6 separate regions of the Homo sapiens genome follow, and regions 1, 3, 4, 5 and 6 are each linked to region 2. Evidence: fine-mapped expression QTL. A gene starts in region 2. Each other region holds a variant in brackets. All regions are shown on one strand. Distances are between the middles of the regions.

Evidence for each region. PIP is the estimated chance that this variant, and not a neighbour inherited with it, causes the effect.
Region 1: its variant is fine-mapped to the expression of SLC9A3 in whole blood (TOPMed, PIP above 0.99).
Region 3: its variant is fine-mapped to the expression of SLC9A3 in esophagus mucosa (GTEx, PIP above 0.99).
Region 4: its variant is fine-mapped to the expression of SLC9A3 in thyroid (GTEx, PIP above 0.99). The same link has a PIP of 0.9 or more in adrenal gland.
Region 5: its variant is fine-mapped to the expression of SLC9A3 in unexposed skin (GTEx, PIP 0.99).
Region 6: its variant is fine-mapped to the expression of SLC9A3 in subcutaneous fat (TwinsUK, PIP 0.95).

The regions. Positions count from the first base shown.
Region 1 is chr5:589,893-593,975 of GRCh38, reverse strand. No RefSeq gene overlaps it. Among named protein-coding and RNA genes, the nearest start is that of CEP72-DT, 20 kb to the left of the region's middle. The variant C/T (reference allele first, on the strand shown) is at 1,654.
Region 2 is chr5:522,348-526,430 of GRCh38, reverse strand. SLC9A3 (solute carrier family 9 member A3) reads left to right here and starts at 1,982. Exons shown (of 17, transcript NM_004174.4): 1 at 1,982-2,319. The coding sequence starts at 2,109. LOC107986395 (a long non-coding RNA gene) reads right to left here and starts at 1,773. Exons shown (of 2, transcript XR_001742543.1): 1 at 1,468-1,773; 2 at 1-19. RefSeq lists an enhancer at 1-415.
Region 3 is chr5:492,671-496,753 of GRCh38, reverse strand. All of the region lies in intron 1 of SLC9A3 (solute carrier family 9 member A3), which reads left to right. Among named protein-coding and RNA genes, the nearest start is that of SLC9A3-AS1, 21 kb to the right of the region's middle. RefSeq lists an enhancer at 289-812. The variant CA/A (reference allele first, on the strand shown) is at 1,659.
Region 4 is chr5:464,620-468,702 of GRCh38, reverse strand. It overlaps EXOC3 (exocyst complex component 3), which reads right to left. Exons shown (of 13, transcript NM_007277.5): 11 at 3,431-3,592; 12 at 2,858-2,985; 13 at 1,413-1,976. The coding sequence ends at 1,805. Among named protein-coding and RNA genes, the nearest start is that of SLC9A3-OT1, 6.3 kb to the left of the region's middle. The variant A/G (reference allele first, on the strand shown) is at 2,360.
Region 5 is chr5:500,654-504,736 of GRCh38, reverse strand. The region is part of intron 1 of SLC9A3 (solute carrier family 9 member A3); the gene reads left to right. Among named protein-coding and RNA genes, the nearest start is that of SLC9A3, 22 kb to the left of the region's middle. The variant T/G (reference allele first, on the strand shown) is at 2,318.
Region 6 is chr5:476,228-480,298 of GRCh38, reverse strand. SLC9A3 (solute carrier family 9 member A3) reads left to right here. Exons shown (of 17, transcript NM_004174.4): 10 at 334-463; 11 at 2,855-2,967; 12 at 3,627-3,756; 13 at 3,921-4,071. SLC9A3-AS1 (SLC9A3 antisense RNA 1) reads right to left here. Exons shown (of 7, transcript NR_125375.1): 3 at 3,736-4,067; 4 at 2,963-3,055; 5 at 2,450-2,493; 6 at 83-517. Among named protein-coding and RNA genes, the nearest start is that of SLC9A3-AS1, 5.0 kb to the right of the region's middle. RefSeq lists an enhancer at 1,966-2,135. The variant G/A (reference allele first, on the strand shown) is at 1,816.

The sequences.
Region 1 (4,083 bases), 68 kb before region 2:
TCCCATAAGTCTGCTTTGGCCAAAGATGCAGGTCCCCACTTCTTGGCCGTAAAGAGAAGGTTTCCCTGGCCTGGCCACATTGCTTTTTGGTTCAGCCTCATTGCTGACTTAGGGACAACAGGAACTTATCCCCAGGAGAGGTTCTGAGGGAAGCAAGAGGCTCTGTAGCCTCTTGCCAGGGGCCCGGCGTCTCTTCAGTATGGACAGAATTGAACAAGTGAATGGCCTGCTCCTGAGTCCCACTGGCTAAATTAGGGGTCGGGCTTTGCTTTCCACCCCGAGTGTGAGTGCAGCAGCCAGGCTCCCCATCACAGCACAGGGTGGCACATGGATGGGGCAGTGCCTCTTCCACAGGAATGCCAGCAAAGCCACATCCTGAGGCCATAAGGTGGCTCCAGTGGTCAGTAAAGATCTGGCCTCGGCAACGTGTGGGACTCGTGGGACATGTCACGGAACAGAGTGTCTAATGGCAACAGGCTGGGCTGTGACTTCTGCCCTGGGCCAGGGACATGCACAGTGTGTCTTTTTGTTTTTGTTGTTGTTTTTGAGACGGAGTCTCGCTGTCACCCAGGCTGGAGTGCAGTGGTGTAATCTCAGCTCACTACAAACTCCACCTACCTGGTTCAAGTGATCCTCCTGCCTCAGCCTCCTGAGTAGCTGGAATTACAGGCACACGCCACCACACCTGGCTAATTTTTGTATTTTTAGTAGAGACGGGGTTTCACCATGATGGCCAGGCTGGTCTCAAACTCCTGACCTCAGGTGATCCACCTACATCGGCCACCCAAAGTGCTGGGATTATAAGTGTGAGCCACCGCACATGGCCCACAGTGCATCTTTAAATATTAAACAGGAAAAGAAATCAACCCAGGAAATTCCACTTCCAAAAATGGAAGTCTAGATCACCTATACCCCCCCAGATGCCAAGGATAACTGGAAAACTTGGACAAAATAGAACCATATCTGCTTGAAGGCACTGGAAACCAACCAAGTAGTGTAGACACGCCTGGCTGGCACCCAAGAGAAATGCGACTGTAGGTGGGTGAGCCTGGGATCTGGGTGTAGACAAGCCCGGCTGGCAGCCAAGAGAAATGCGATTGTAGGTGGGTGAGCCTGGGATCTGGGGACATGCCTTCTGTGGGCCATGCCAATTTCAGGAGCAGTGGCTAAAAATCAGTGCCATCCTTTTGAAAGTACTTTGGGGTCGGGGGACAAGTGTTGGCACAAAGACCCAGGAGGAATAAAGTTTCTGCTCTGTATCCCCTGCTTGGGAAGAGAACCTATATAGCTCTTCATGGGGATAAAAGGTAAACTGAGGTCAACCAGCCTGCCAGGGGCCGCAGCCCAACTCCAAGTCATCTGGGAACTCCAGGACCCCCCTGTCCCTGATCCTGGGTTACAGTGTTCCCAGACCAATGGTGTGTCCAGGTGGGGAGGCACAAAGCCTTAAAACTCTGCTTACTTTCTCAGCTGGGAAGCAGATAGCCTGGGGCAGGTTTGCAGCCCTGCTCACCCACTGCCCGGAGACAGACTTTGTGCTGTTGGGAGTGGGGGCGAATGGCAGGAGTGAGACTGGCCTTGCTGGCTGTGTGGGAGTGGGGTGAAGCCTGTAACTGCCTGCTTCCCCACACTTCCCTGGCGACCTGTATGACA[C/T]AGCAGAGGCAGCCATAATCCCTCTGGGAACATAACTCCATTGACCAGGGAACCACGCCCCATCTCCTACAGCAGCTGCAGCAAGCCCCACCCAAGGAGAGGCTGAGTTCGGACATGCCTAACCCTGCCCCCACCTGGTGGTCTTTCTCTACCTGTCCTGGTAGCTGAAGACAAAGGACATAATCTCCTGGGGGCTCTAGGGCAAGCTTGTATCTTCTCTATAAAACCTCAGCTGATGCACTCTTGAAAGCACCACCTCCTGGCTGGAGGCCAACCTATACCAAACCAGCGCACTTAACAACGCTACCACCAAGGACCCTCAGAGTCCACTTCACTCCCCTGACACCTCCACCAGAGCAGGTGCTGGTATCCATGGCTGAGAGACCTGAAGACAGAGCACGTCACAGGACTCTGTGCAGACACTCCCCTGTACCAGCCTGGAGCCCAGTAGCTCCACTGGGTGGCTAGACCAAGAAGAGCAAAACAATTACTGCAGTTCGGCCCTCAGGAAGCCCCATCGCTAGAGGAAGGGGGAGAGCACCACCTCAAGGGAACACCCTGTGGGACAAAAGAATCTGAACAGCAGCCCTTGAGACCCAGATCTTCCCTCTGACATAGTCTACCAAATGAGAAGGAAGCAGAAAAACAATTCCAGTAATATGACAAAACAACATTCTTTAGTACCCCCAAAAGTGCATGCTAGCTCACCAGCAATGGATCCAAACCAATAAGAAATCCCTGAAGTGCCAGAAAAAGAATTCAAAAGGTCTATTATTAAGCTAATCAAGGAGTTACTAGAGAAAGGTGAAGTCCAACTAATGAAATTTTTAAAAAATGATACAAGATTTGAAGGGAAAAATCTCCAGTGAAATAGATAACATAAATAGAAATCCACATGTTAGACACACTGTAGTGAACTACAGAAAACCAAAATAAAAATAAACATCATAAAAGCAACCAGCATACAAAGTAAGATTACTTTAGAAGGAGCAAAAATTTGATAGACATCCAACTTCTCAGCAGAAACAATGGAAGCCAGAGGACAATGCAATAAAATCTTTAAATGGTGTAAGAAACAAAAAATAACTCCCAGTCTAGGATATTACTCCAAGTAAAAATATCATTCAAGAACAAAGTTAAAATAAAGCTATTTTTATAACAAAGACAAAAGAAAACAAAACTGAGAGAACCACAAAGATGCTGGCAAAGCAGTAGGGGGAAGAAAACGATCTTTTCAGAAAATGGTCAGTTTTACGTCTCCTCCCGTGGAGACATGGATGAAATGCAACCTCCACCTGTCATGGGCCCCCCCTCTGAGCCCCAAGACAACAGCTAAAGCTGGCAGGTACCCCTCCTCAGAGGTCTTGATTTTAAAATAGTAGTAGTTCCAATATTTCCCCTTTGTTCCTCCAGCCACAGGTGTAGTAGCTTCCTCTAGTAGCCTCTACCTTCAAGATATCTTTCAGTTGCCTGCTAAACTCCAAGCCTGGTTAACAATCCTTCATTTCAGTTTTCTGTGTTTAAATAATTGCTGTGGTTTCTGTCTCTTGATTGTGCCCTCACTGGTATGTGGGGTTCATGACAACCTGTCATTGACTAAAATGGCAATCTATATTTTCCAATATAAATAATATATTCATGACAACACATCAACATTCTTAATAAGAAAATTCTTTTAGGATACCAGGGGAACATATCTAATTATACCTAACACTCCCTTGTTTGGTGACAGGAAACTCTGGAATTTTATGGAAAATACTATGACCATGATTCATTAACTTATTTAAAAAGCATTTATCACCCTAAGAATATTTTTGGACTCTTAAAGGCAAGGATTGTGCTTTTTCCTTTGGAATTTTGTGGACTAAAATAGAAATGGGAATTAGAGACAAAAATCCTGATAACAACTCTATCACTAGCTAATTATGTCTTGTATCTTGGGCAAGTCTCTGTCCCTCTCATTTAGGCAAGTTCCTTCCACAGCAAAATTGGAAAATTAAACAGTGTAATTGTTCAGGTCTTGTCAGATACATGACTTTTTGCTATAGCATTCAACACATTAGAAATACATCAGGCAGCCAGTAAATGTTTACAACAGAAGTGATATGGTTTGGCTGTGTCCCCACCTAAATCTCATCTTGAATTGTAGTTCCCATAATCCCCACATGTCATGGGAGGGACCTGGTGGGAAGTCATTGAATCATGGGGACAGTTACCCTCATGCTGTTCTCATGATAGTGAGTGATTTTCACAAGATCTGATGGTTTTACAAAGGGCTTCCCCCTTCACTCTGCACTTCTTCTTGCTGCTGCCATGTGAAGAAGGACATGTTTGCTTCCCCTTCCACCATGATTGTAAGTTTCCTGAGGCCTCCTCAGCCTTGTGAAACTGTGAGTCAATTAAACCTCTTTCCTTCATAAATTACCAAGT
Region 2 (4,083 bases):
TGGTGGAAATTTGGCCTTCCTGTGGAATGCAAGGGCAACATCTTCAGAGAGGACGTCGTTCCTAACGGCTCCACCCAGGAACCATAAGGAAAGAGCAGGGAAGCTCCGGACTGGAGGGAATCCTGTTCTTGTCCTGCTGGCTTTTTCTCTGGGACAAGAGGCTGGGAGTGGAGTGGGGGACAGAGACAGGTGGGGCAGGGACACAGGCCAAGAGCGACTCCGATGCTCCCACCTCGCAAGACCATACTAGTGGCCAGTCACACACTTCCACTCCCCCGGTGCCCTGTCCAGACCCTGCAGTGGCCCAGGCCAGGGCTGCCCTCCCTCCACGCCACTCAGCAGCCGAGTCACCAGGCGAGCACCATCTGAATGCACCTTCCCTGTGCTACACGGGCCACTTCCATTAGCATGAAACTGGGGCCCTTGCAGGGTGAAGTCATTGAACTCAGCACTGTCCTCCTCAGGCCTCCGCAGCCCCCACTCAGATGTCAGAAGACACATCCATCCTCCATCTGCACCCACCCCACCGCCCACCTGCCCTTTGTCCACCTATCTGTCCTTCCATCCATCTATCATCCATCCGCTCAGCCACTATCTTGCGAGTGCTATTGTGTGCCCAGCTATCTTCCAAGCTCCTGGGATGTATGCATGAGCCCCTTGCTCGTGGAGCAGACATTCCCAGGGTGAGGGCAGACAGCTCAAGGTCAAAGCCAGCAGCCCCCAGGGCTGGGAGGTGAGCTGATTCCCGGAGCCAACCGAGTAAGCAGGGGAGGCGGGAGCTTAGCTGCCACAGTTGTGAGCTGAGTGGGTATCGGGTGGGACCAGAAGGTGGCATTGGAGCCAAGCCCCTGGGGAGCTGAGGAAGGGAGCACACAAGAGCCGTCCAAACAGAGGGAGCAGGGCGTGCAAAGGCCCCGAGAGGCGCCGATTGCTGGTGTGGGCCGTGGAGTGCATGGGGGTGGGGGTCAGGCAGTGGCTGGGGTCTGAGCTCCCGGGAGACGTTGAGCCTTTCCTCTGAGAGGGAGGGTCCCAATAGGAGGGACTGAAGGGGCAGGTAGAGGGCCGAGCAGGAGCCTTTGCAGGTGGCTGCAGGCTCCCAGAAGCCGCTGGTTTTGTGCACATTTTGAAAGTAGAGCAGATATGCTAAGAGCTTGGAAACCTTGTGAGCGAAAGAAGTCCACCTGCGTCCCAGGTCTGGGGCTGGAAGGCTGCAGGGTGGGCTTGGAGGAAAACAGGGGTGTGGTTTGCACAGTGGAGCCTGAGATGCTTAAGAGAGCCAGTGCTGCCGGAGCGGGCTGTGGGCAGAGGCCCCGCATCCGTGTGAAGCCCTGGGGGTATCGAATTGTTTTGGGCGGAGGTCTAAAGGCAGGGGATGGGGCAGGGGAGACCACGGGGGCCCCTGGGCTCCCATCTCAGAGCCTGGGGTGGGGGATGCTGGCTGGCGATGGGAGGGGCAGAGAGACTTACCAGCGCACCACGCAAGGCCTGGGCGCCCCCGAGTTCTGGTAAGTGGCCGGTCCGGCTGTGGAATGCAGGTTCCTGCTGAAGACAATAGCGAGGGGCTGTGTGAAGACACACCTGGGGCCCCTGTGCACCCTTGGGCCGCCCTGTGGGGTCTGCGCAGCCCCAGGCCCTGCGTTTATGAAGGAGGGTTGGGGCGAGCGCACCCACAGCTGCCCGGGCATCCCAGGAGCTGCGCGGAACCGCCTGTCCCGCTGCCCCGCGCTGTGCTCCCCACGCCCCAGGAAGGCGGCCGCGCAGTCCCGGGCTCGCTCTTGCCGCGACCTCCCGGACCTCCAGGCCGCGGGCTCCGGGGGAGGGTGGGCACCAGGGAGCGCGGGGTGGGCGTGCGCGGGCGGGGCGGGCGTGCCGGGAGCTGCGGCGGTGTCTGCGCTCGCGAGTGCGCGGCGGGGGCGGGCAGGCTCCGCCCCGGGGCGGGAGGGGGCCGCGGGATTAAAGGCCACCCCGGCGGGCGGGGATCGGACTGTAGCCGGTACCGGCACCGGAGCGCGCCGGGTCCTCGCCGGGTCCCAGCCCCGCGCGTCGGCCCAGCCCAGCCGGGACCCCCCGCGACATGCGCGTCCCAGCCCTGCGCTGAGCAGGCGGCAATGTGGGGACTCGGGGCCCGGGGCCCCGACCGGGGGCTGCTGCTGGCGCTGGCGCTGGGCGGGCTGGCGCGGGCCGGGGGCGTCGAGGTGGAGCCCGGCGGCGCGCACGGCGAGAGCGGGGGCTTCCAGGTGGTCACCTTCGAGTGGGCCCACGTGCAGGATCCCTACGTCATCGCGCTCTGGATCCTCGTGGCCAGCTTGGCCAAGATCGGTAAGTGGCCCCGGGGTCTCCGGATCTGCCCGCGGGGTGTGCGGCCGCCTCTGCTGGGCCTGGGGGCTTCGTTGTGGCCGCGCGCATCAGGTCGGAGCCGCGCGGCGGCCGCCCGGGAGAGTCCGGCTCTCGGGTCCAGCAGAGCGAGACTCGGGAGCGACTCTGGCCGCGCTAAGCCGCCCCTGCGGGTCCCGAGGTCTCCCCTCCCCGGCGGGGGCACAGCCTCGGAGCCCCGGACTCCCGGCTCCCGGGTCCCTGTGGGGTCTCCGCCCCGCCTCCGCTCCGAGCCCCGCAGACTGCAGGCTGCTCGCGCCCAGGGAGTCCCCGGGGCCGGGTTTCCTTCGGGGTTCTCAGGCTTTTTAGAGAAACGTCCTTGGAGTGATGGCGTTTTTTCGTGAGTTACAAGGGCAGAAAAGAAAAGCGGTGCTACCCGCATGAAACCCAGCAGAATCCTCCCTACAGGCGCAGCGTTCCCATTGGCGGGCCTCCTTTTTTTTTTTTTTTTTTAGAAAATCCCGGTCGGTCAGATTTCTCTTCTTCTTAACCGGCGCCAATGAACCAGTAATGTGGGCACGGCAGGTAGCTCCTGGCAAGGTGACAGGAAGGTCAGCTTCCTGAGGAGCTCGTGGGGATCAAAGTTTCATGTGTTGGTCCACAGGGTAGGGTCTCTCCAGGGGTGGCAGGGAGGTGGTCACTCGTGTGGAGGGGGGATTAGGGGGCCCGAGTGGGGCCAGGAGAAGCAAGATCAGAGCAGCAGGCGCCGCGGCAGGTTTCCAGAGCAGCTTTGGACTGGGGCGAGAGGAGGTTTCGATGCTGGGGCCGAGGAGGGGCGCCCACGCAGGACAGGGGAGGGACAGGCTCCGGGGAGAACAGCTGAGAGGACCTTGGCCTTGGTGGAACCTGGTACGCCCAGCAGGCTTGATTGGAGAAGGCGCCTTTTCCTTCAGTGACGCCTGCCGCCTGCCCTATTTATGCCAGGGTCTCCCCTCCCCTTCAGGCCCCTTGTGTGTTTGCTTTCTGTCTCATAAGGGCTCTTCTGAGCCCTCCCGCCTCCTCCCTTCTCCGCAGCCTCCTCCTCGCCCTGGTGTCTTTCAGCTCCCCGCCGGGCTGCCTGCTCTCCAGGCTCAGGCTGTCCTCCCTGGGCTTTCCACTGGGGGCTTGGGATGCTGGCCGGGGGGGAGTCTCTGAGGCTGGCTGCCTCCTACAGTTGATTTCCTTGAGAAGGGCCCCTGGGGCATCAGGGAGGTCCAGACTCAACCTGGGCTCTGCGGCCGCCCAGTCCTAAAGCTCACCCTGCTTTCCTCTGACGGGAGTGCCCCCCTGGTGTAAACTGAAAAGGTAATTTCTTTTTTTTTCTTTTTTTTTTTTTTTTGAGATAGAATTTTGCTCTTGTTGCCCAGGCTGGAGTGCAATGACGCGATCTCGGCTCACTGCAACCTCCACATCCTGCCTCAGCCTCCCGAGTAGCTGGGATTACAGGCATGAGCCACCACGCCCAGCTAATTTGTATTTTTAGTACAGACAGGGTTTCTCCATGTTGGTCAGGCTGGTCTTGAACTCCAGACCTCAGGTGATCCACCCGCCTCGGCCTCCCAAAGTGCTGGGATGACAGGCGTGAGCCACCGCGCCCGGCCGTGAATATCTAATTTCTGTACAAGCTGGGGCCTCTCCCAGTTTAGCCCAGTGTACAGAGTCAGAATCTGGCATCTGAAGGTCCAATGACAGCCGCCAGGCACCAGCCAGCCCCGCCTGGGAGCCGGCAGA
Region 3 (4,083 bases), 30 kb after region 2:
ATTTAATTGAGTGCCTTTATTTTTCCTGCTAAAAAATTTAGCAGGAAACATGAGCAGGAATGGCTTTGTTAAGTATAACACAAAACTCAGAAGCCATAAAACAAAAGACCAATAAATTTAACTATAAAAAGAAAAGACGTTCGCATGGAGCAAAATGACAGAAGACAAAGTGGAAAGATGAGAGCAACATTTTTGAAAGTGAAAATCTACCTGCCGCTGAAGACATAAGCAAAGGCTGGATTTTCCAGCTTACGAAGAACCTCGTGTCAATAGGAAAGGATCAGTGCCCGGCAGGGGAGCAAGCCGACACTTTCACAGAACGGGGTCGTTCACGCGTCACCCACAGGTCGTCAGAGGCTGTTAGGTTGGGCCCCTCAGGAGATGTGGCTCACGCCTGCCTGGCCGGTGGGGATGGGTGCGGCTCCTCCCCCGTGGGCAGGTGGGACGGCATGTCCCATGCAGGAGGACACAGGTGAGCTCTCAACACACACACACCCTGAAGACTGCAGGAGCTGCCCTCGGACGCCACCGCACATGGGAAAGGCGTGTCCAACACCCTTTCCAACCCCGGATGGCAGAATGTTCCAAACCGCCGCCCTCCCACCTATGCGGCGTTTGTGCGTATATATGTATATTTTCTCAGTAACTACCAAGGTCAGAGGATGTTTTCTGTGGATTTTAAGGGCTTACTTCTGAGCAGGAGTGTTTGGTCTGAAGCCAGCCTGTCCCTCACCCACCAGTGTCCCAGTTAACAGGCTTTTACAGTAACCAGCGGCCTCACTGGAGCGTGGGGAGGGTCGGCGATGGCGCGGGGAGTGGAGCGTGGGGAGGGTCGGCGATGGCGCGGGGAGTGGAGCGTGGGGAGGGTCGGCGATGGCGCGGGGAGTGGAGCGTGGGGAGGGTCGGCGATGGCGCGGGGAGTGGAGCGTGGGGAGGGTCGGCGATGGCGCGGGGAGTGGAGCGTGGGGAGGGTCGGCGATGGCGCGGGGAGTGGAGCGTGGGGAGGGTCGGCGATGGCGCGGGGAGTGGAGCGTGGGGAGGGTCGGCGATGGCGCGGGGAGTGGAGCGTGGGGAGGGTCGGCGATGGCGCGGGGAGTGGAGCGTGGGGAGGGTCGGCGATGGCGCGGGGAGTGGAGCGTGGGGAGGGTCGGCGATGGCGCGGGGAGTGGAGCGTGGGGAGGGTCGGCGATGGCGCGGGGAGTGGAGCGTGGGGAGGGTCGGCGATGGCGCGGGGAGTGGAGCGTGGGGAGGGTCGGCGATGGCGCGGGGAGTGGAGCGTGGGGAGGGTCGGCGATGGCGCGGGGAGTGGAGCGTGGGGAGGGTCGGCGATGGCGCGGGGAGTGGAGCGTGGGGAGGGTCGGCGATGGCGCGGGGAGCACTGTGAGTCCCCAGGGCACAGAGTTGCGTTGTTGTTTTTAAAGACAAAGCTGGTCCCTGTGTCCCTGTGTCCCTGACTTGCTGGCCCGCGGTTGTCTGGGGTGGCTTCACAACGGTGGTGATCGCTGTGAACCTAATTTTGGAAGACTGTGGCTGAAAGACCCTAACCCTCAACAAAAAGACCCCGGGCCAAGTGTCGGCAGCCACCAAGGGTGAGGGCGTCCAGGAGCTCCGAGACTCCCGCTGCTTCCCAGGTCTGACCTGCGGCCACGGCGCCCCCC[CA/A]CCTGGGGACACGCGGTCTCTGTGGTCGCTGGATTTTATCCTCAAAGCAGCCCACGTGCCGGCGGGCACCGAGGGGCCACACGTGCCCCGCTGGCTGCTCCACAAGCGCTATTGGACAAATACCATCTCCCAGGTCTTGTGACCCTGAAAAGAGGAGGACAGGTGAGCCGATTACCCCTCCAGGAGCCAGCCTGGGACGTGGGCAGAGGCAAAGAACGTGCATCGTGTAGAAAACAGCGGCCTGGGTGGGTCTTGCCAGCGGCTGGGCAGCCTCCAGGGGGTCACCATCACCACGGCTGTGCCCGGCTTTGCTAGGCACTCGTCGCCAGCAGCAGAGGTGACGACGTCGCCAAGGACAGATGTGAGAGGCGCGGGTCAGCCTGCGGGTGGGCAGGCGCCGGCACCGGGCACAGACCACCCTGGTCTTCCTAACACAGCTTGGGACACCAAGGCGGGGATTTACAGCCCTCAGGAAGAAAGGAAGGAAGTGGTAAACTCCACTTCTCTCTGGACATTATTAAAAAAATCAGGAGGCTGCAGAGGTGGGAACACCTGCCCCAGGCCTTCCTGCACCATAGGGACCCCCAGCAGGACTCCCAAAGGCCTCGGAGCCCTTAGTGTGCAGACTCCCATGCCAGCCTAGAACCTGCTGAGTCCCGGCTGTGGAGGGGGTCCCAGGCTGCCCTGAGCAGAGGCCACAGCCTTCCCCTCGCAGGCCCGGAAGGCCACCCATGTCTCTTCCCAAAGCTCTGCGAGGCCAGGTCTGTCCCTGGCCACCACAGGGACCAGGCCGTGGAGCCCAGAGAAGAGGGGCCCCTGTTTTCCTGCTGGGCTGCCAGCCCCGTGAGCCCAGATCTGGGGAGGGCGCTGCTGAGGACGGGGCTGTCGGGGCACGCGTTAGGGTCCCAGGACTTCTCACGTGCATCACAGCCACTCCCAGCTGGGGAGCACCTTCTAGAGAAGGGAGAGCTGTGGGGAGAGAGCAAGGTCAACCCTACGGATGCTCTCCTGCTGAAAGCTGGAGCAGACGGGACCCTGCAGGCCAGCTCTGAGCGGGGCCCCGAGGACTCCAGGGAGCTCACCCTCCGTGTTCCCCAGGGACAGCCTCCCTCCCTCATTCCAGGCCAGGCCCTCCCTCATTGCAGGCCATGCCCTCCCCTGGTTTGGTTATCACTGTCGCGTGGTTCCAGCCTCCCCGGGCCAACCCCCGCTGCCCTGCCTGACAGGTGTGGAGCTCAGATCTGTGCAGGATGTGCAGCCCGGAGTGGGGGAGCCGTCGGGGGGCTCAGAGAGCCTGTGGGGCACATGGTGGGGACGGGGCCCACAGCAGGACCTCCCATCCTGAAAGCAGGAGCCTCTGAACCCCGATCCCTCCCGGGGCTGGTGTTTTGGAATCTGGAGCAGCAGGCAGAGCCGCTGTCCTGGGGACAGGGTCGGGAGACCGCAGTGCAGTGCTGGTGGCCGGGCAGGTGCGGAGCTTGTGCCTGCCACCCTCCCTAGAGGGGCCCATGCCACCCGTGGTATTTGGTGTAAGACCATCCTCGGGGAAGGAACGGCAAATCCAGAACAGCACCTCCCTCCTCTGGGCCAGCACCCGGCCCTGCAAGAGCTCCGTAATTACAAGGGAGAAAACAGGCAGGGAGGGCCGAGCTCGTCAGGGCCACGCAGTCGGGAAGGGTGGGACGTGGCCACTGCCTCCACCGCCCCTCCAGCTGTGCTGACACATTCTTCGGGGGCGGGTGGTGTGGAGGGAGCCTCCCCGCTCCCGCTGCTCTGTGCTTAAATGGGGTCTTGGCCATCTCAGGAGACAACTTTCCTTTGAATTTCAAAGAAGACTTAATAACCAGCAGCTGAGGGAATGAAGAAGCTCATTATCCCTTACATCACCGAAGCCGGAGGACGCACCTCATTTGTCAGGCTTCCCGCTATTTTGAAATCAGGCCGAGCGCAGGAATTCTCATCACCTTTTTTTTTTTTTCTGAGTCCAACTAAAACACAGGAGACATGGCCCAGATAGGTTGGTGCCTGCACCCCCACCCACAGGGCCGGGCAGAGCCTCTGAGGTCCTGGCAGGGGCGATGGTGCTGGGGGACGGGGTGAAGCTCCACGGGGGGTCCCCAGGACCTGCTGTCCACCCTTAAGCTCACCCGTGCGGAGTGGAGTGGCGGGACCCAGAGACTCTTCCTAGAACACCCCACCCAGGGGCCGTGATCCCAGGAGAGGGGCACGAGGAGAGGGGGCCACAGCCTCCATGGGGCCCCTCCGGAGGGGTCTGAAACACAGCCAGCCTCAAGTGGGAGCAGGCTCTGGCCACAACGTCAGGGACAGGGTGAGCTCAGACCTTGGTCACCAAGGCAAAAGGCACAGAGCGAGTTGGGGGTCCGGGGGACCAGAACCAGCCGGGCGGTGGGGCGGCAGGTCAGA
Region 4 (4,083 bases), 58 kb after region 2:
TTTACTTTTACCAAAATTTACACTCCTGCCATTGCTCGTCTACCAGGTATGGCTGACTTGGCTGGCAACACCCGGTGCCAGAGGTCTGCTCACCTGGGGGTGGGGACAGGGCTTGCTGGGTGCAGCTGGTGTCTCATCTCTCAAAGGACCCAAGGAGTAACTCTGGGGATGTCAAACAGGAGGGGACCAGGAGGGCACCCTCCAGGCTGAGGGGATGTCAGACAGGAGGGGACCAGGAGGGCGCCCTCCAGGCTGAGGGGATGTCAGACAGGAGGGGACCAGGAGGGCGCCCTCCAGGCTGAGGGGATGTCAGACAGGAGGGGACCAGGAGGGCGCCCTCCAGGCTGAGGGGATGTCAGACAGGAGGGGACCAGGAGGGCGCCCTCCAGGCTGAGGGGATGTCAGATACGAGGGGACCAGGAGGGCGCCCTCCAGGCTGAGGGGATGTCAGATACGAGGGGACCAGGAGGGCGCCCTCCAGGCTGAGGGGATGTCAGATACGAGGGGACCAGGAGGGCGCCCTCCAGGCTGAGGGGATGTCAGACAGGAGGGGATCAGGAGGGCGCCCTCCAGGCTGAGGGGATGTCAGACAGGAGGGGACCAGGAGGGCGCCCTCCAGGCTGAGGGGATGTCAGATACGAGGGGACCAGGAGGGCGCCCTCCAGGCTGAGGGGATGTCAGACAGGAGGGGATCAGGAGGGCGCCCTCCAGGCTGAGGGGATGTCAGACAGGAGGGGACCAGGAGGGCGCCCTCCAGGCTGAGGGGATGTCAGATACGAGGGGACCAGGAGGGCGCCCTCCAGGCTGAGGGGATGTCAGACATGAGGGGATCAGGAGGGCGCCCTCTAGGCTGAGGGGATGTCAGACATGAGGGGACCAGGAGGGCACCCTCTAGGCTGAGGGGATGTCAGACAGGAGGGGACCAGGAGGGCGCCATCCAGGCTGAGGGGATGTCAGACATGAGGGGATCAGGAGGGCACCCTCTAGGCTGAGGGGATGTCAGACAGGAGGGGACCAGGAGGGCGCCATCCAGGCTGAGGGGATGTCAGACAGGAGGGGACCAGGAGGGCGCCCTCTAGGCTGAGGGGATGTCAGACAGGAGGGGACCAGGAGGGCGCCATCCAGGCTGAGGGGATGTCAGACAGGAGGGGACCAGGAGGGCGCCCTCCAGGCTGAGGGGATGTCAGACATGAGGGGATCAGGAAGGCACCCTCTAGGCTGAGGGGATGTCAGACAGGAGGGGACCAGGAGGGCGCCCTCTAGGCTGAGGGGATGTCAGACAGGAGGGGACCAGGAGGGCGCCCTCCAGGCTGAGCGGAGACTTTTACTCTGTGATTGACAACAGTTCCTGGGCAATCCTAGATCAGTAGTCAGAAAACCTTAACTGGAAAAGAGAATGCATGGCGTTTTCATTTCTCTGAGGAAGCCGAGAAACTTTAATTAGGTGACGGGGTTCCGAGCACTTAAGCAGATGGGGTGCGGTGAAGGCCCAGGGAGGAGGAGGGCAGGGAGGTGCACGTCCTCTGTGCCCCACACACTTTCAACCACTGCAACAAACAAGCACCCAAGAGAGGCTGTGCGGCAGAGCCCTGCACCCACAGGCCTTTGACAGCACAGTGAGGGGCCTCCGCACGTGGCCTCGGGACGCTCACTCGACGCACACCCGGTGCATCACACTGGCACCTAAAGACAGGCCGTGCAGCTAAAAGGAGCACGTGTGGCCAAGGAGAGCAATCAGCTGTCCCGCGTTTCTAAAGGCAGGGACCGAGGCTGTGGAGGGGCGAGCAGGGCAGGCCGGCGGAGGCTACTTGAGCAGCTTGGCCACGTTCAGGCTGGGCACCACAATGTCCTTGAAGAGGGGCACGTAGCTGGGGCTGGCCTGTGCTGGGCCCTGCTCCAGGGTCTCCATGATGGTCTGCTTCATGTCACGGCTGGCGTCCCCACGCACAGCCAGCAGCGCACCGATGTGGTCATCCCTGGGGATGGGGAGATGTCAGCCCATGCCCACTTAGCAGCCCTGTGATGCACCACGCTGCCAGGGACTCACGGCTTCACCACCCCAGCTGACAGAACACAGGGGGTGAGGACCGCTGCAGACAAATTGCACCTTTCCCTTTTCAGCGGGAGACAAGCCTGCATTTTCATCTTACTCTGTCTTTTCTCAATCCAATTGCAGAAAGATTTTTCAACACTGCTTTTATAAATCTTTGTTCCGGCCCAACCAGAGGGGAGACCGTGGAGAGCTCAAGACCCCGTTTTTCCACGTTTAACCAGCGAGATGATGGGACGGAGGTGACGCGGCTGCAGCCATGGAGGTGGCCCCTTGGGGAAGTGGCAGGTGCCCTGAGACAGGGGCCGC[A/G]AAGGCTGGCCTGGGGCCTGGAGCCAGCATGGTGGAGGGGGGACGTGCGTGGGTCCCCTTCCCTGGACCTGGTACTGGGGACTCCCTGTAATCACGTCCTCGGAAGGTGTCTGGTCCAAGCTGCACTTGGGCCCTCCCGAGTCCACCATGAGCACAGAGGAAACTTCCTAAACTCGCCCCACTGAGGCCACTCCACAGCCCAAATCTTCCCCACCACACACAGCAGAGCTGTCACAGCCCCGCCCCCACCCCACTGTCCCCACCCGGGATGTGCCCCTCGAGCTCCACCCACCCACACTGTAGCCCAGGCCAGGTGGAAGGCAGCACAGAAGCAGCTCTGCTCCCTGCGCCTGGGCCCCGCTGTGCCGCACCTGAACCCTTGCCGTGCTGCAGGGCTGAACTTGCGAACCAGGAGCCCCACCCGCCCCAGACAGAAGGAGGGACCTGCCGCTCCACTCCAGGATTCTAAGGCAGGATTCTAAGACGTGCATCCCTTACCTGATGTCTGGATACTTGCTGACCAGAGTGGAGACCTCCAGGTAGAGCAGAGAAGGGTCTGTCAGCTTGATCACTTCGGCCACAGCCACGATGGTGTCGCAGTATCCGTCCACGTCTTCCCCGAAACCCTGGAAGGCAGCAGCAATGTGAGGAGCCGCCCTCGGCTGTCCCGCGGCGCTGGGAGCAGCTGGATTCTGGCTGAGCCCCTTCCTGACTGGGAACCTCCCTCTTCACCTGACTCCTCAGGATCTACTCTGAAAGCTCAGTGACAGGGCCAGGGGTCTGGGGTGAGGGCGAGACCGTGGGAGGCAGCCAGCACCTCGCAGCGCAGGACAGACTGGGAAGCGTCCGTCAGGGAGCTGTGGGCGGCCTCGGGAAGCCGGCGGGGCCGGCGCGTCTACCTCTGTGGACATTCGTGTCCAACCACAAGGTCAGGCAGGACCTGGACCCAGGCTCCCCCCGCCTGACAAACACACGACACACTCCCATCTACTGGCCCGAGTCCCGGGGTGGAGGCTGAACAGGGCCGCGGAGCGACAGGCCTTCTCCAGCCCGGACCTGCGCGACACTCACGGACGCCAGCTTCCGGAACAGGAAGCGCAGCTGCTCTGCCTCCCTAACCATCTTCTCGGCACCCTCCTTGCGCTCCTCCGGGCTCCGGAAGGAAATGCGCTTCTGCATGACCGCCCGCAGGTACTCCACCACCACGCGCCGGTGCGCCTCGGCCGTCATCCTCTGGGGAGACACGCGCGGTCAGCGGCAGGCTCCACGGCTCTGGCGGCCAGGAGCACCCTCATTGAAACCCAGGCTGGGGCTCCCGGTGGCTCCCCGGAGGCTCTGAGCCCACTCCTCCTCGCTCCGCCACGGCTCTGGCATCTCACCGCAGAGGAGGAGCGGGGGCTCAGTGGGGGAACAGTGACGGTGACCTGGACCCCCGCACCAGGCCAGCTCCGGCCCCCAGCAGGACAGACGCGGGCGAGGCAGTGCCGCGCATGAGCACTCGGTCCACAGACAGGCCCGTGTCAGTGGCTGCTGCTGTCCTTTGATAACGACCGCAGCATCTGGAAAACGCGGCAGGCACTTTGGAGGAAAGAGGAACCTGGGTCCTGCAGGAAGGAGGGTCTGAAGCGGAAAGAAATCCCTGGGGCCTCAGGGAGTGAGTGGAAGGCAAGGAGCTAAGACGGGGCACGCGGGCCTCTCCGGGAACCATGGCTCCCTCCACCTCG
Region 5 (4,083 bases), 22 kb after region 2:
CCCCCACGTTTAGAGACAGTGGCCTCACAGCGCTGAGGGGTGCAGGTCCCGGTGCCCATGGCCCCAGAGGGAGGCACTGCCCAGCAGCTGAGGGTTTGTCTGCTGTCCCCACCCCGAGCCCTCTGGGCTCACCCGGGGGTGACAGGAGGAGGCAGCGGGGCCGTGAGCCCGGGGAGCCTGAGATCTGGCCGCTTGCTGTGTGGTCTGAAGGTCCCGGCACCCTCCCTGGCTGCCGCCGCCGGACACACTGGAGGAGGCTGTGGAGTTCTCTCCCGAGGGCCAAATCCAACGGCCCCTGCAGCGGCTCAAGGTTCAGCCAGTCCTGGACCCTGCATGTCCACCGCCCTGGGCCCTGGCTGCAGCCCCGGGGGGCTATTTCCTCACTTTACAGAGGGGAGCCTGAAGCAAGGAGGGCAGGTCACACCTCCTGGGTGGGTCACGGGACGCGGGGGCTGCAAGAACACGGGGAGACGTGTGCCCCTTGGGTTCCCGGGGGTTCCGGAGCTGGCGGCAGCCCCACAGCGATGCCTTCCGGCACCTTCCCTCCCCAGGCGCCTCATATAGGACGCTGTCTCCTTGCTGGAAGCTTCTGCAGAAGCTTGTTCCCTTCCCTTGTTTAGTTGTTGATAAACCAAAGGCAAAAACACGGGGAATGCTAAACTTCCGTGATTGATGAAGACGGTTTCATAATTTCTACTTTGAAGTGAATGATTTTATAAGGGCAAGAGAGAAGAGAGGGTGAAGTGTGAGGAAGGTGGGGGTGGGTGGGACCCTGAGAATCCAGGCACCGGGTGAAGATGGGAACCCCCCAAGAGCTCTGGGGGCCCAGTCTTCTGTCCAGAGGCCCCAGCCTCGCGCAGACGATTCGCCGATTCAGGAGAAACCACAGCCGTGGATGAGATTTCCAGCAGACACGCCTTCCTTGCCCATTTCATGGAACAAGAAGAAAGTTCTTTATTGGTAACTCACACACATTATACAGATGGAAAGATTCTCCATTTGTTTTTGATTTTCAGCAGTCTGACTGTGCCGTGCCCACAGGCAGGATTTTCCCTGTACTTGCATTGCTTGGAGCTTGCAAAATTTCTCAAATCTATAAATGTGTGTCTTTCACCAAACTGGGGACATTTTTTACCATTCGCTCTTCAAGGTTTCCCCGCCCCATTCTCCCTTCCTTCCAGAGCTCCAGCTACACATATATCAGGCCTTTTTCTGGGCAAGGATGGGGGCCTCGCTCACTGTCACCCAGACTGGGGTGCAGCCTCAACCCGCCCAGGCTCAATGGACCCTCTGGCCTCAGCCCCCTGAGTAGCTGGGACTATGGGCACAAACCACCAGGCTCAGCTAATGTTTTAATTTATTTTGTCGAGAAGGGGTTTTGCTGTGTTGCCCAGGCTGGTCTTGAACTCCTGGGTTCAAGCGATCCTCCTGCCTTGGCCTCCCAAAGTGCTGCGGCTACAAGCTATTGATTTTGCCCCACAGGCCACTGAGGCTCTGGTTACTTTAAAAACCATTTTTTCTCCTTGGTCTTCCGATGGGATGATTTCTTCTGATCTGTCTTCCAGTTCACTCTCTTTACTGTCATTTCTGTCTGCTCGTAAGTCTATCCATTGAGTTTTTATGTCAGAGATTCTAGGGTTTCTGCTTGGTTCTCTTTGATAAGTTCTATTTTAGGCATCAGCAAACTACAGCCCGTGGGCCGGCCACTGGTTGTTGTAAATAAAGTTTCACTGGAACGCCCATCTGTGTCGTTACAGCGGCTTTCGGCCTCAGTGGTAGTGAGTGGTAAAGTTTCACTGGAACACAGCGCCCATCTGTGTCGTTACGGCGGCTTTCGGCCTCACTGGTAGTGAGTGGTAAAGTTTCACTGGAACACAGCGCCCATCTGTGTCATTACGGCGGCTTTCGGCGCCCGTCTGTGTCGTTACAGCGGCTTTCGGCCTCACTGGTAGTGAGTGGTTATGAAGTGATCCTCCTGTTGGCAGCTTGCAGGACCTAAAATACTCACAATCTGCCTTTAAGAAAAAATGTGCCAAGCCCTGTTCCACTCCACCGCTGCGGCTTGTCCTTTTTAAGTGGTTATGAGAACGTTTCTTTTCTATCCTTGAGCTGCTGTTTTAGGCCCTTGTCTGCTGATTCCAGGGTCTGACCATCTTGCGTTCTCCTCTGATTTGAGCTGGGCCACATTCCCACTTCACGTGTCTCGTGACTTCCGTTGCCCCAGGACGTTGCGACCGGTGTCTTGCCGGGGACTGTGCTCCGCTGCGGCCCCTGGTAGGCGCCGCTGGGTCTGCGGTAGCTGAAGCTTGTTGCTGCT[T/G]TGAGCAAAGCCCTGAGGTGGTGGCAGCTGGGATCTGCATCCAGGTCTTTCCTCTGCTGTGGGCAGCTTGGGACCTGCCTGTGTCTGTCTGTTCTCACGCTGCTAATAAGGGGGCCTGGGCCGTCTCTGGGGGTGGGGGGCCGGAGCGGCTGGGTCCCAGAGAGGAAGGGGTGTGGGGTCTGCCCAGCGTCCTGGACAGAGGCCGTGGCTGGCTCAGAGGCTGCGTTCATTTTGCCCCAGCGCGGTTGCTCAGGGTGGTTTGGAGTCGAAGGATCTCCTGATTCTCTAGGGAACCGTGGGCAACATTCATGTTTCAATTTAAAAACCGACCAGGTTTGCTCGAGTGTTGTAAATGTACAATGTGTAAAACGCCTTGTGACTTGAGCGCAGGGAGTCCAGTCCTGAACGGGCTGTTGTTCTTGGAGCTGTGTGAACTTCATCTGGCAGGAAGCAGCTTCCCGGCCCGGGGGCCCGGCCTCGCTCGGAGAGGGGCTTCCTGCGTGGCCCCCGGGAGCCGGCTCCCCTGTCCCACGCCAACCTGAGTACTCACGGGGAACTGCACCCGCAGGCAGGGACGCGTGGGGTCACGCAGGCACGTCTGCCAGGCCGCACGGCGGACCTCCGTGAGCACCTTTACCTCCGCCCTGGGCTTGACGGCCGACACATTTACCGTGATTCCTCGCCGGTGCCCCACAGGCGGGTAAAGTGATACTGAGGTCAGAGTGTGCTGGCGAGCTCTGCTGGACCTGCAGGGGCGGGTGGCAGAGAACTCAGACCCACAGCTGTGCTAGGAGAACAGGGTGGACCCTGTGCGTGTCTCCTCTGTGTGTCTCTGCACGTCTCTGCGTCTCTGCGAGTCTCTGTGTGCGTGCACGTGTTCCTGCATGTGTCTGCGCCTGCCTGTGGAATGCCCCGGCCCCTCGTCCCCCGGGAGGGTGGGTACCTGTGCTTCCGCCCTCCTTCCTGGCCTCACCGCCCCACCGCTCAGCCAGGCTGTTTCTGGGAGGCAGAGTTTAATCCTCCGGGACGTGTTCCTGTTAAAGTAAAACCACAGGATTGACTGCGCTGTTGCATTTTTGTGGACTCGGCTGAATCTCTGCCACCTTGAAAGGTCCTTGGAGGTGGCGGAGGCCCTGGGCCTGACCAAGCCCCGTCCCTCTGTGCTCCGAGGGGTGTGACATGCATTGGGCCGTGGCCTTCCTGAGCCCCCCGGGGCCCAGAGAGAAGCCCTTTCCGGCGCCCATCCGGAAATGTCTGGTTTGCCAGCGCCGGCCCTTCCTCCTCCAGGCACAGGGTTTGTAATTAGAACTAAAAGCGTCTGTCCCCTGTCGTAACCATCAGGCCACCAAGCCATTGTGTGCTTAATTAGCTGTGACTCTCCAGCCTCGGCAATCAGTTACCTGAGGGCCTGCGTGTCCCCAGGTTTGTCCCCTTGTGTGGAAGCCACACGGGCTGTGGCAGGCGGACTCAGGGCCTGGCCCTGTCCACACCGGCCCGTGTCCACACCAGCCTCGTCCACACCGACCCCATGTCCACACTGACTCTGTGTCCACACTGGCCCCATCCACACCAGCCCCGTCCACACCCACCAGCCCCATCCACGCCTGCCCCATCCACACCAGCCCCTTCCACACTGACCCCATGTCCACACTGGCCCTGTGTCCACACTGACCCCGTCCACACCAGCCCCGTCCACACCCACCAGCCCCATCCACACTGGCCCCATCCACACGGCCCCATCCACACCAGCCCCATCCATACTAGCC
Region 6 (4,071 bases), 46 kb after region 2:
CGCCCCTGCCCTTCCTCCTGTGCACCTGAAGGTGCCCCCCATGTGGCCAAAGCCCCCTTGCCTGACCAGGCCTGACACCCACCGTGTCCTGAGCCACCCTCTGGAGGAGGCGGCATGCAGTTTCATATGCGTCTAACGGCCTCCATCCAACAGGACAGGCGGGAGAACGGCGGACGGCCTGGGCGTGTGGCAGGGGCTGCTTCCCTCATTTTAAACGCGCCTACAGGGTCACTATAGCAAACAAAATTCAGGAGAGAAGGGGCCGGGCCACGCGTCCGGCGGGCTCTAGGGCGCCTGTCACCTGAGGCTCACACCCAAGGTCTGTCCCTACAGGTGGTCCCACTTCGACAGGAAGTTCCTCAGCAGGGTCCTCATGAGACGGTCGGCCCAGAAGTCTCGAGACCGGATCCTGAATGTCTTCCACGAGCTGAACCTGAAGGATGCCATCAGCTACGTGGCTGAGGTAGCAGAGCCGCTTGCTCTGCCGGGTCGGGGCTGCAGCAGGCTCTGGCACTGGCTGTGGGTGCCATGGGGCAGTGAGGAGAGGCCCCTGCACCCGCGTCCCAAGGCCAGGCCCACCCCAGCAGTTCACGGGAGGCTGATGGGCCTTCTGATGCCCTGGGAATCCCAGGGGCTCTCGTGGGGTAAACTGAGTCACAGAGTCCTGGTGACTGTGGTGCTGGTGGGGGTGAGCGCTGAGGTCAGGTCCTAGGACCCCGAGCTCCCTTGCTTTCCCCAGGGATGGGAGCAGACGGTAAGCAGGCAGGCTGTTACGGGACCTGGTCCCAATACAGCCCTGCCTGCCCCAGCACACGCAGGTGCCCACAGGTGCACACGCACAGGCAGAGGGGCAGCAGCAGGGCCGTCTCCCGCTGTGGGCCGGCCATGGCTCTGAGGCTGCTCCAGCATCTCCCAGTCCACTATGAGCAGGCCTCTCAGCGTCTGCAGAGCCCCTGACTGCTCCAGAGACCAGAGGCCAGGCGCCCCACCCAGCCCCGAGGCCACTGCCGCCCTGGCTCCCGCACCTGCCCACTATGGCAGGTGGGCCTCAGCCTCCCCGGCCTGCCCTGACCTCCCCAGGGGCGCCCTGGCTGCAGGAAGTGTGCAAGGCAGGGCCTGGGGGCACAGCTGCAGGGATTCCGCAGCTCCTCCCTAAGGACAGAGCCCTCCCTAGCGAGCTTTGGTGCCCTCATCCAGCAGCCGGTCAGGGTGGGTGCTCTCGCCGGAGAGAAAGACCTGTCCTGCCAAACCCTGCAGACCCTCACACAGAGGGCCAGTGGGGGCCTGGAAACTCCATTCATTCAGACAGAATGATTCTGCCTCCACTGACGTGCATTCACCCCAGATGTGCCACCCGTGACTGGGGCCATGCCAAGTGGCAAGGCACCTCCTGGCAGAGGGCACGGGGGCCTGGGGCTGTCAGGAGGGCCAGCCAGTGCAGATCAGGAAGGAGGGCTCCTGGACCAGGCTCCACACAAACCCCCAAACCACAGGCCCGGCAAGCGAGAGAAAGCTCAGATACTCTGGCCCTAGGAGGCCTGGAGCCTGGCTGGAGGGTGGGAAGGGACAGTGGGGGCTCTGGCCTCTGGCGGGCTCCCCTCACCCCCACATAGGTGACAAGGTTGGCAGGCGGGCCTTGAGCCTCTCCCCCAACCACACCAGCCACCATCCTTGACCCACGACCCACGACCACAACCCTGGGCTCAGCTGCATGTGGGGAGCCTGTGGGCTCCTCCCGGCCACTCAGTAGCGGGGGTCCCCACACCTGGGGTGGCATCTGCCTGCCCAGTGTCCCTCCTGGCTCTCACCCAGGGC[G/A]GCTGCTTTCTCTCCCTGCGCCCCCCCACCCCACGGCAGGGCTCGGCAGGGGCAGGGGAAGTGGTGTGGGGAGCAGCCCCTCCGAAGACCCCACGTGCCCGGGTGCTGCACAGCCCTCGCCTGTGCCCGCCCAGAGTGGCAGTTAGCACCGTGGCTCCCCTGACCCTCACGTCTGTCTTCGTGGGGTGGCAGGAGCGGGACAAAGGTCATACAGAAGATGCTGGATTTAGAAGCAAAAGAGCAGGCGGAGGGCCCTCAGAACCAATGACCCTCAAATCCCCCCCGAGTGGGCAGTGAACTGGGGGCCGCATCTTCAGTGGGAACAGCGGCACCCACCTGACCCCGGGGGCTTCCCTGGGAGCATCCTGCACACTGAAGGCGGCACGGGTGCCCACCTGGCGAGGTCTGAGTGCAGTGAGCTGACGTTCCCTCCACACCCGTGCCCCTGCCGGCCCTGGGGACCCTGACTCCAGCCATAAGCCCACTCTGCCCTGTGCTCCTGCACAACCTCATGCTCTCCAGGCCCTGCCATCAGGCGGGTGGGGTCTGAGGACACATAGGCGGCCCCACTTCCATCCTCTGGCACTCAGCTGTGTGGCTTCTGTGCCCCATCGGGCTCTGCTCCGTTCTCTACCTGATTCAGTTCTGGACATGAGGCCAATGGAGTTTTAGGGTCTCCTGCAGGGACAGAGACCACTTCAATGATTCTGCAGTATCAACACTTTCCCCAGACACATCCCAAGTCCCAGGCAGCTTTACCCCTTCACACTCAGACCACTGTGTCCTCCCACAAGCATGACCTCTGCCCAGTTCAGGCAGCAGCCTGGCTGTGGCCTCAGACGGACAGGGGCTCAAAATCTGATCTCCTGGTTTTGGCATTTCCACCCCTCCCTCTGCAGCTGTGAGGCGTGAACCCGGGGCTCAGGTCTCAAGGCTTTCCCCGGGCCCCGAGCTCTGGGCGCTTCCCCCCAGGGCACACAATGGCAGCAGCTAGGGCTTGGCTGCTCAGGCCACTGACCGGGCTGCTTCCTGACCACAGGGAGAGCGCCGCGGGTCCCTGGCCTTCATCCGCTCCCCCAGCACCGACAACGTGGTCAACGTGGACTTCACGCCACGATCGTCCACCGTGGAGGCCTCTGTCTCCTACCTCCTGTATGTGGCCATGGTCATGCAGCTTCCCTGGGGAAGAGCCCAGCCTCGGGAGCTGAGAGTCACAGACAGGGCTGTGGTGGCTCCTGGCCTGGGGGTGGCATGGAAGAGGGGAGAGGTGCAGAAAGAGGGGGTGGGTGTCTCCTTCCACAAGCCCTCCTATATTAGGCCGTGGCCAGACTCCCTTAGTGCTGGATGGAAGGTGAAAGGGAGGGGCAGCAGCGGACTGGGGGCCAGGCCTGACGTGTTTGCCCCTGGCCCGCAGCAGCCTGTCCTGGTCCCCATGCCACCCTTACTGCTCCTCCGGCCCTGGGCTCCACAGCTCACAGCCAGTTCTCATAGGAGGTCCACTCTGCCAGATGTGCAGATGCTGGGGTCCCCGAGTCTTACAGCCAGGGCTTTGGAGAGGGACCAGTAAGGAAAGGGACCCACTTCAGACAGGAGGCCAGGAAGGCCTCGTGGGGAGTCAGCCTAAGCCCCGAGGGGAGAAGGGGCTGGCCAGATGGCAGATGTCCCCGTGCCCCAGCCGGGTGCCCACCATGGGAAGGCGAGGGGCACGCAGGAGGCAGCCAGGGCCAGATGCCCGCCGTGGGAAGGCGAGGGGCGCGCAAGAGACCCCACCCTGAGGGAGCCTGTATGGCTCAGCGCTGGTCCCCACGCAGGAGAGAAAATGTCAGCGCTGTCTGCCTGGACATGCAGTCTCTGGAGCAGCGACGGCGGAGCATCCGGGACGCGGAGGACATGGTCACGCACCACACGCTACAGCAGTACCTGTACAAGCCGCGGCAGGAGGTGGGCACTGCGGGCTGGGGGCTGGAGGACCCCGCAGGGACCCCGTGGGGCGGCTTCCTCGTCCCCTCCTGGGACCACGGGGGATCCGTGCTCAGCTCCTGCGGCAGGAGGGCGAGAATGTCCGGCGGTGGGCACAGCTGTGACCTCCGTGCCTGATCCCGCAGTACAAGCATCTGTACAGCCGACACGAGCTCACGCCCACGGAGGACGAGAAACAGGACCGGGAAATCTTCCACAGGACCATGCGGAAGCGCCTGGAGTCCTTCAAGTCGACCAAGCTGGGGCTCAACCAGAACAAGAAGGCGGCCAAGCTGT